2 linked regions of the Homo sapiens genome follow. The protein of the gene in region 1 interacts with the protein of each later gene in a pairwise test. Each region holds a gene or a part of one and is shown in the gene's direction. Other genes may lie near its edges.

Evidence for each region.
Region 2: the proteins of XRCC2 (region 1) and NKIRAS1 interact in a two-hybrid assay, tested with the Homo sapiens proteins (one large-scale study listed by BioGRID and IntAct).

The regions. Positions count from the first base shown.
Region 1 is NC_000007.14:152,648,642-152,652,141, reverse strand, and holds part of XRCC2 (DNA repair protein XRCC2), read left to right. Parts: intron 1-2,778; coding exon 2,779-3,500. UniProt on the Homo sapiens protein: Involved in the homologous recombination repair (HRR) pathway of double-stranded DNA, thought to repair chromosomal fragmentation, translocations and deletions. Part of the RAD51 paralog protein complex BCDX2 which acts in the BRCA1-BRCA2-dependent HR pathway.
Region 2 is NC_000003.12:23,896,491-23,899,990, reverse strand, and holds part of NKIRAS1 (NF-kappa-B inhibitor-interacting Ras-like protein 1), read left to right. Parts: intron 1-3,500. UniProt on the Homo sapiens protein: Atypical Ras-like protein that acts as a potent regulator of NF-kappa-B activity by preventing the degradation of NF-kappa-B inhibitor beta (NFKBIB) by most signals, explaining why NFKBIB is more resistant to degradation.

The DNA.
Region 1 (3,500 bases):
GTCTGGGCTAGAGTGCAGTGGCATGATCATGGCTCACCGTAGCCTCAACCTCACAGGCTCCCACTTCACCCTGAGTAGCTGAGACTGGGACTGTAGGCACATGCTACCACGCCCGGCTATTTCTTTTTTTTAATTTTTTGTAAAGGCAGGGTCTCCCTATGTTGCCCAGGCTCGTCATGAACTCCTGGGCTCAAGTGATCCTCCCACTTCAGCTTCCAAAGTGCTGGATTACAGATGTGAGCCACTATGCCCAGCCATGTGTAGAATTCTTAAATACAAAAGAGAAGTCTATGAGAACTGATAACATACTATGCTATAAGAAAGCTGAAGCCAGGCATGGTGGCTCATGCCTGTAATCCCAGCACTTTGGGAGGCTGAGGCAGGCAGACCACTTGAGCCCAGGAGTTCAAGACCAGCCTGGGCAACATGGTGGAACCCAGTCTTTACAAGAAATACAAAAATTAGCCAGGCATGATGACACATGCCTGTAGTCCCAACTACTTGAGAGGCTGAGGTGGAATCATTTTTTAAATTTCTTCTTAAGGTAAATTTAGAATTGCAAGTTGTATGTAAGATTATGGTGGAAATTTGGTGCAGTCTTGGCTCACTGCAGCCTCTACCTCCTGGGTTCAACTGATTCTCCAACCTCAGCTTCCCAATTAGCTGGGACTACTGATGCACACCACCATGGGTGGCTTTTTTTTTTTTTTTTTAATTGTAGAGTTGGGGTCTCACTATATTGACCAGGCTGATATTGAACTCTTGGGCTCAAGTGATCCTCCTGCCTTGACCTCCCAAAGTGCTGGGAGTTACAGGCATGAGCTACTGTACCCAGCCTAGATTTCTTATACATTATTTGTGAATACTCCAATATACAACGGTTTGTTGATAATAATAAGAAAGGCCAGGTGCGGTGGTTCACACCTGTAATCCCAGCACTTTGGGAGGCCGAGGTGGGTAGATCACCTGAGGTCAGGAGTTCGAGACCAGCCTGGCCAACATGGCAAAACCCCATCTCTACCAAAAATACAAAAATTAGCTGGGCGCGGTAGCGCACGCCTGTAATCCCAGCTACTCGGGAGGCTGAGGCAGGAGAATTGCTTGAACCCAGGAGGCGAAAGTTGCAGTAAGCCAAGATTGAACCACTGCACTCCAGCCTAGGCAACAGAACAAGACTCCATCTCAAAAAAAAATTAAAATTAAATAATAAGAAATAAAGTAATTGCATTTTTTTGTGTTTTTGTTTTTGTTTTTTGAGACGGAGTTTCGCTCTTGTCGCCCAGGCTGGAGTCCAATGGCGTGATCTCAGCTCACTGCAACCTCTGTCTCCCAGGTTCAAGTGATTCTCCTGCCTCAGCCTCTCAAGTAGCTGGGATTACAGGTGCCCACCACCATGCCCAGCTAATTTTTTGTATTTTTAGTAGGGTTTCAGTATGTTGGCCAGGCTGGTCTTGAATTCCTGACCTCAGGTGATCCTCCCGCCTCTGCCTCCCAAAGTGCTGGGATTACAGGCGTGAGCCACTGCGCCCAGCCCTTGAATCCGTATTTAGACCATCATTTGGTTGGGGCTAATAATTGGCATTTTAACATAGTGTTTCCAATCAGGTAGTTCAGCCGTAAATTAATAATGACAAGCAAGAGTTGAATGCCACTGTGAGTGCATTTTGAAAAGCTCTGGAAGCAAGGCAACTTCCCCAGTGTTGTTTGATTTAACTTGTGCTGTCCTTAGTTATTCGAGCCTAGATAGAAGGAGAGTTGGAGTCTTTAACGTTCAGAGTAGTTGACTTTGATTTTTAATGCTAGGAAAATAATTTCTAATGCAGCTGGACATGGTTTCCAGAGATAATTCAAATAGCAAAGAATAACTGAAGGCAGTTTGGGAACGTGTAAGGTTGTTTTCAGTTGAAGGATGCTGTTGGCATTTAGGGTCTGAGAGCCATGGGCTCTTGCCTCAATAATGTGTGAAACCACAAAATCCAGAATTGTTCCCCCCATAACATCAATAACACTGAGAAACCTAATTAGGGAGTGCCTTCACCTGCGTGTCATAGAAGTCCAACTTAGTGGCTTGCCCAGGTGGAGGCTTGTTTTCCTCACATCCTGAGTGGCACAGAGGCAGGCTGTGCGTGGCTGGTGGGGGCTCCGTGTGCCCAGAGTCCTGGGTACCTTCTGTCTTCCACGCCACCATCCTAAGGGTGGGTTTCATCCTCACTGCTTCCAGATGGCTGCTCCACCCCCACAGGAGGGTGCGGCAGGGCAGAAGGGGTCCCTGGATAGGAAAGAATCATCAACAGAGAGCAGCCTGCATCTCACTGGCGACAGCTGTGTTACCTGGTAACCTTGCTTTTCAAAGGAGACTATGAAAAATAGTTTTAAAGTGGACACATTTCCCTCCCCATCAAATTGGGTTTTATACTTTAGGAAGAAGGGAAGAATGGATATAGTGTAATCAACTACCAGAAAGGGTGTGTACTGTAGTCATCAGATTTTGGAAAGGCCCTAGATCTGTGGCTCTTTATTTTTGAATCTTACAAATTGAAGTGGGAGTGCATGTGAGCCTGGCCGGAGGAGAGTCCCCTAGCCTCTTCCAACCTTCCCACCAGGCTCTAATTTCCTTATTTATTGTATTTGCTTGTACAGCTCCATTTTGGCAAAAGTGAATTTAGATTTTCTTTCACATTCCAGTAAGTGTCTTTTTAAACTTTTTTGCAGACTTTGCATTTTGTAACCTACCCTTGAGCTACTGCATTTTGACTGAGATTTTTAAATTTTACACAGGTGATATTCTTGAATTTCATGGCCCAGAAGGAACAGGAAAAACAGAAATGCTTTATCACCTAACAGCACGATGTATACTTCCCAAATCAGAAGGTGGCCTGGAAGTAGAAGTCTTATTTATTGATACAGATTACCACTTTGATATGCTCCGGCTAGTTACAATTCTTGAGCACAGACTATCCCAAAGCTCTGAAGAAATAATCAAATACTGCCTGGGAAGATTTTTTTTGGTGTACTGCAGTAGTAGCACCCACTTACTTCTTACACTTTACTCACTAGAAAGTATGTTTTGTAGTCACCCATCTCTCTGCCTTTTGATTTTGGATAGCCTGTCAGCTTTTTACTGGATAGACCGCGTCAATGGAGGAGAAAGTGTGAACTTACAGGAGTCTACTCTGAGGAAATGTTCTCAGTGCTTAGAGAAGCTTGTAAATGACTATCGCCTGGTTCTTTTTGCAACGACACAAACTATAATGCAGAAAGCCTCGAGCTCATCAGAAGAACCTTCTCATGCCTCTCGACGACTGTGTGATGTGGACATAGACTACAGACCTTATCTCTGTAAGGCATGGCAGCAACTGGTGAAGCACAGGATGTTTTTCTCCAAACAAGATGATTCTCAAAGCAGCAACCAATTTTCATTAGTTTCACGTTGTTTAAAAAGTAACAGTTTAAAAAAACATTTTTTTATTATTGGAGAAAGTGGGGTTGAATTTTGTTGA
Region 2 (3,500 bases), on another chromosome or scaffold:
AGGGTTTCACCGTGTTAGCCAGGATGGTCTCGATCTCCTGACTTTGTGATCCGCCTGCTTCGGCCTCCCAAAGTGCTGAGATTACAGGCATGAGCCACCATGCCTGCCCTCCTTGGGCTTTTTATTATCTCCTTGGGTACATAGGATTCTTGTCTTCAGGCTTACCAAAAAAAGAAACCTAATAATTATTGGATTCTACCCATATACCACTTAAACATAAGATTCATATGCCTTACAGTGGTCTGTAAAGATTTAGATTACCTGGCCCATGCCTGTCCTTTTCATCTCATCTTTATTATCTGCCTGTCTCTCACTATACTCCAGTGACACCAGTCTACTTTCTGTTTTTTCAACATGATAGTTTTGTTTTCCTATTAAGCTTTCTCAATTGCTTGTTTCCCTGTCTGGAACTCTCTTATCTCAAATCTTTCTCCAGATCTTCACGTGGCGGACTCTTCATTGTCTAGGAAACCAGATAATATACTGATTAACAGTACTGGCTAGATGGTAGAAAAAAAACAAAAAACAAAACAAACAGCAACAACAAAAAGTACTGGCTAGATGTTCTTAACTTAGATTTTTGCATATTTTTTGTTAAGCTTTTTATTTTGAGACAATTATAGAGTCACATGCAGTTTTAAGAAGTAACAGAGAGAGATCCCTTACCCAGTTTGCCCCAGTGGTACCATCTTCAAAACTCTAGTACATCATAACCACCGTATTTGTGTTGATTCAGTCAAGACACAGAACGTTTCCATCACCACAAAGATCCTTCATGTTACTCTTTTATAGCTGCCCCACTTCCCTCCCATCTTCACCCCCACCTTAACCCTTGGTAACCACTCATCTGATCTCCATTTTTATAATTGTGTCATTTCAAGATTGTTATATAAATCAGTGGTCCCCAGTCTTTTTGGCACCAGGGACCGGTTTTGTGGATGACAATTTTTCCACAGATGGAGATGGGGTGGTTTGGGGATGAAGCTGTTCCACCTCAGATCATCAGGCATTAGATTCTCAAAAAGAGCATGCAACCTAGATCCCTCACATGTGCAGTTCACAATTTGATTCTCCAGCTCCTGTGAGAACCTCATGCCACTGATGTGACAGGAGGCGGAGCTCAGGTGGTAATGCTTGCTTGCTCCCTGCTCACCTCCTGTTGTGTGGCCCGGTTCCTAACAGGCCCTGGACTGGTACCAGCGCATGACCTAGGGGTTGGGGACCCCTGATATAAAAGAAATCATACAGGCCAGGTGCAGTGATTCACACCTGTAATCCCAGCATTTTGGGAGGCCGAGGTGGGCAGATCACGAGGTCAGGAGTTCGAGTCCAGCTTGACCAACATGGTGGAACCCCGTCTCTACTAAAAAAATACAAAAATTAGCCTGGCGTGGTAGCACACGCCTGTAATCCCAGCTACTCAGGAGGCCGAGGCAGGAGAATCGCTTGAAACCCGGGAGGCAGAGGTTGCAGTGAGCTGAGATCATGCCATTGCACTCCAGCCTGGGTGACAGAGCAAGACTCTGTCTCGGAAAAAAAAAAAAAAAATCATACAATATGTAATCTTTTGGGATTGGCTTTTTTTACTCACATATCCTCTGGAGATTCATCCAAGTCACTGCATGGATCAGTAGTTCATTTCTTTTTCTTGGTGAGTAGTATTCCATGGTACGTACCAAACTCTTTTTAACCATTTATCTGTTGTAGGACATCTGGGTTATTGATATTTTATTTAGAATACTAATTTACTTTATGAATAGATAACATATTCACAAGGTTTTGAAAAGATGTAAGAAGTCATGAAAGCTCCTCTCCCCCGTATTTCCCATCTTTCCCACCGAAACAGGCAAATGCTGTAATTATTTACTTGGGTATCCTCCAGAGACCCCTCTCTGCCCCACAAAAGTTGAAAGGTCAATGAACACTCACGTACTAGATACTTAAATCTTGGCTTTGCTTCTCAGCTTTTCTGCTTCAGTTTCCTTATCTGTAAAAGGAGAATAATAGTAACTTCCTCATATGCTTCTTCAATCCCCATAATCGTATTAATTCCGTGAATGCTTATTTAGCAACTACTATGTGCCAGGCATTGTTCTAGGTACAGGGAATGTGGTAGAGAACAAAACAGTCCATATCCCAATAAAGCTTCTATTTTGGGAGTGAGAGAGACAGTAAATAAATATATTTAATACATTACAATGAGTGATGCTATGTGGAAAAGCAGAATGGGGAATGAGGGTGCTATTTTCTGTAGGGTGACTTTAGCAGATATTTGAAGGAGGTAAGGAGGGAGGGAACAAAGCTGATGTCTGGAAGGAAGAGTGCTCCAGGTGGAGGGAATAGCTAGTACCGAGGATCTGAGGTCGGAATTTGCTTGCCATGTTCAGGAATCGGCAGTGAAGCCAGAGTGGGCTAGGAGGTGTGTTGTAGGTGATGGGGGCACTTTGCCTTTCACTTTTAGTGAGATCAGAAAGCACTGGTTTGGGGCAAAGGAATGACATGATATGGCTTAAGTTGCATTTATTTATTTTCATGTTTGGTTTTAAAAAATTGAATAAGTAATGTTTGCACATGGTTCAAAAATGACAATCATATGTAAAAAGGACTGTGTTCAGTCTGGTTCCCACAGCTGTCCTCAACCACCAAGATCCTGTACATTAAGCATGCTTTTTAAAATATTTTACCCCTTTATTAGTTTTGGGGCAGTCATCCAGAGTTTCTTTATATAAATGCAAGCAAATAGGAGTATACATTAAAAATATTTTTCCTCCTTTTTTTTTTTCCCTATTTCAGACAGGGTCTTGCTCTGTTGCCCAGACTTGAGAGCTATGGCATGATTGCAGCCTAAAACTCCCAGGCTCCAGTGACCTCCTGCCTCAGTCTCCTGAGTAGCTGGGACTACAGGAGTACATCACCATGCTTGCCTAATTTTTATTTTTATTTTTTTGCAAAGACAAGGTCTTGCTCTGTTGCCCAGGCTGGTCTCCCAACTCCTGGCTTCAAGTGATCCTCCTGCCTCGGCCTCCCAAAGTGCTGGGATTATGAGTGTGAGCCACCGTGTGCCTAGCCTTTTTTCCCTTTCTCACACCAGGTGGCATACTATCCTGTACCTTCTGTTTTTCATGTAACATATCTTGGAGTTGTTTCCATATCAGTACCCAGATTTTTTTTTTTTTTAATTGTAGAGACAGGTGTTGTTATGTTGTTCAGGCTAGTCTTGAACTCCTGGTCTCAAACAGTCCTCCTTCCTCAGCCTCCCACACTGTTGGGATTACAGGTGTGAGCCACCACACCCATCCACCCACCCCTGTTTTTTTTTCTTGGTAACTAATGTATAATATTCATCCTGTGGCTATAGATGTATCATCCTTGTTTTTTTTGAGATGGAGTCTTGCTATTGCCCACGCTAGAGTGCAGTGGCATGATCTCAGCCCACAGCAACCTCCGCCTCCCAGGTTCAAGCGATTTTCCTGCCTCAGCCTCCCGAGTAGCTGGGATTA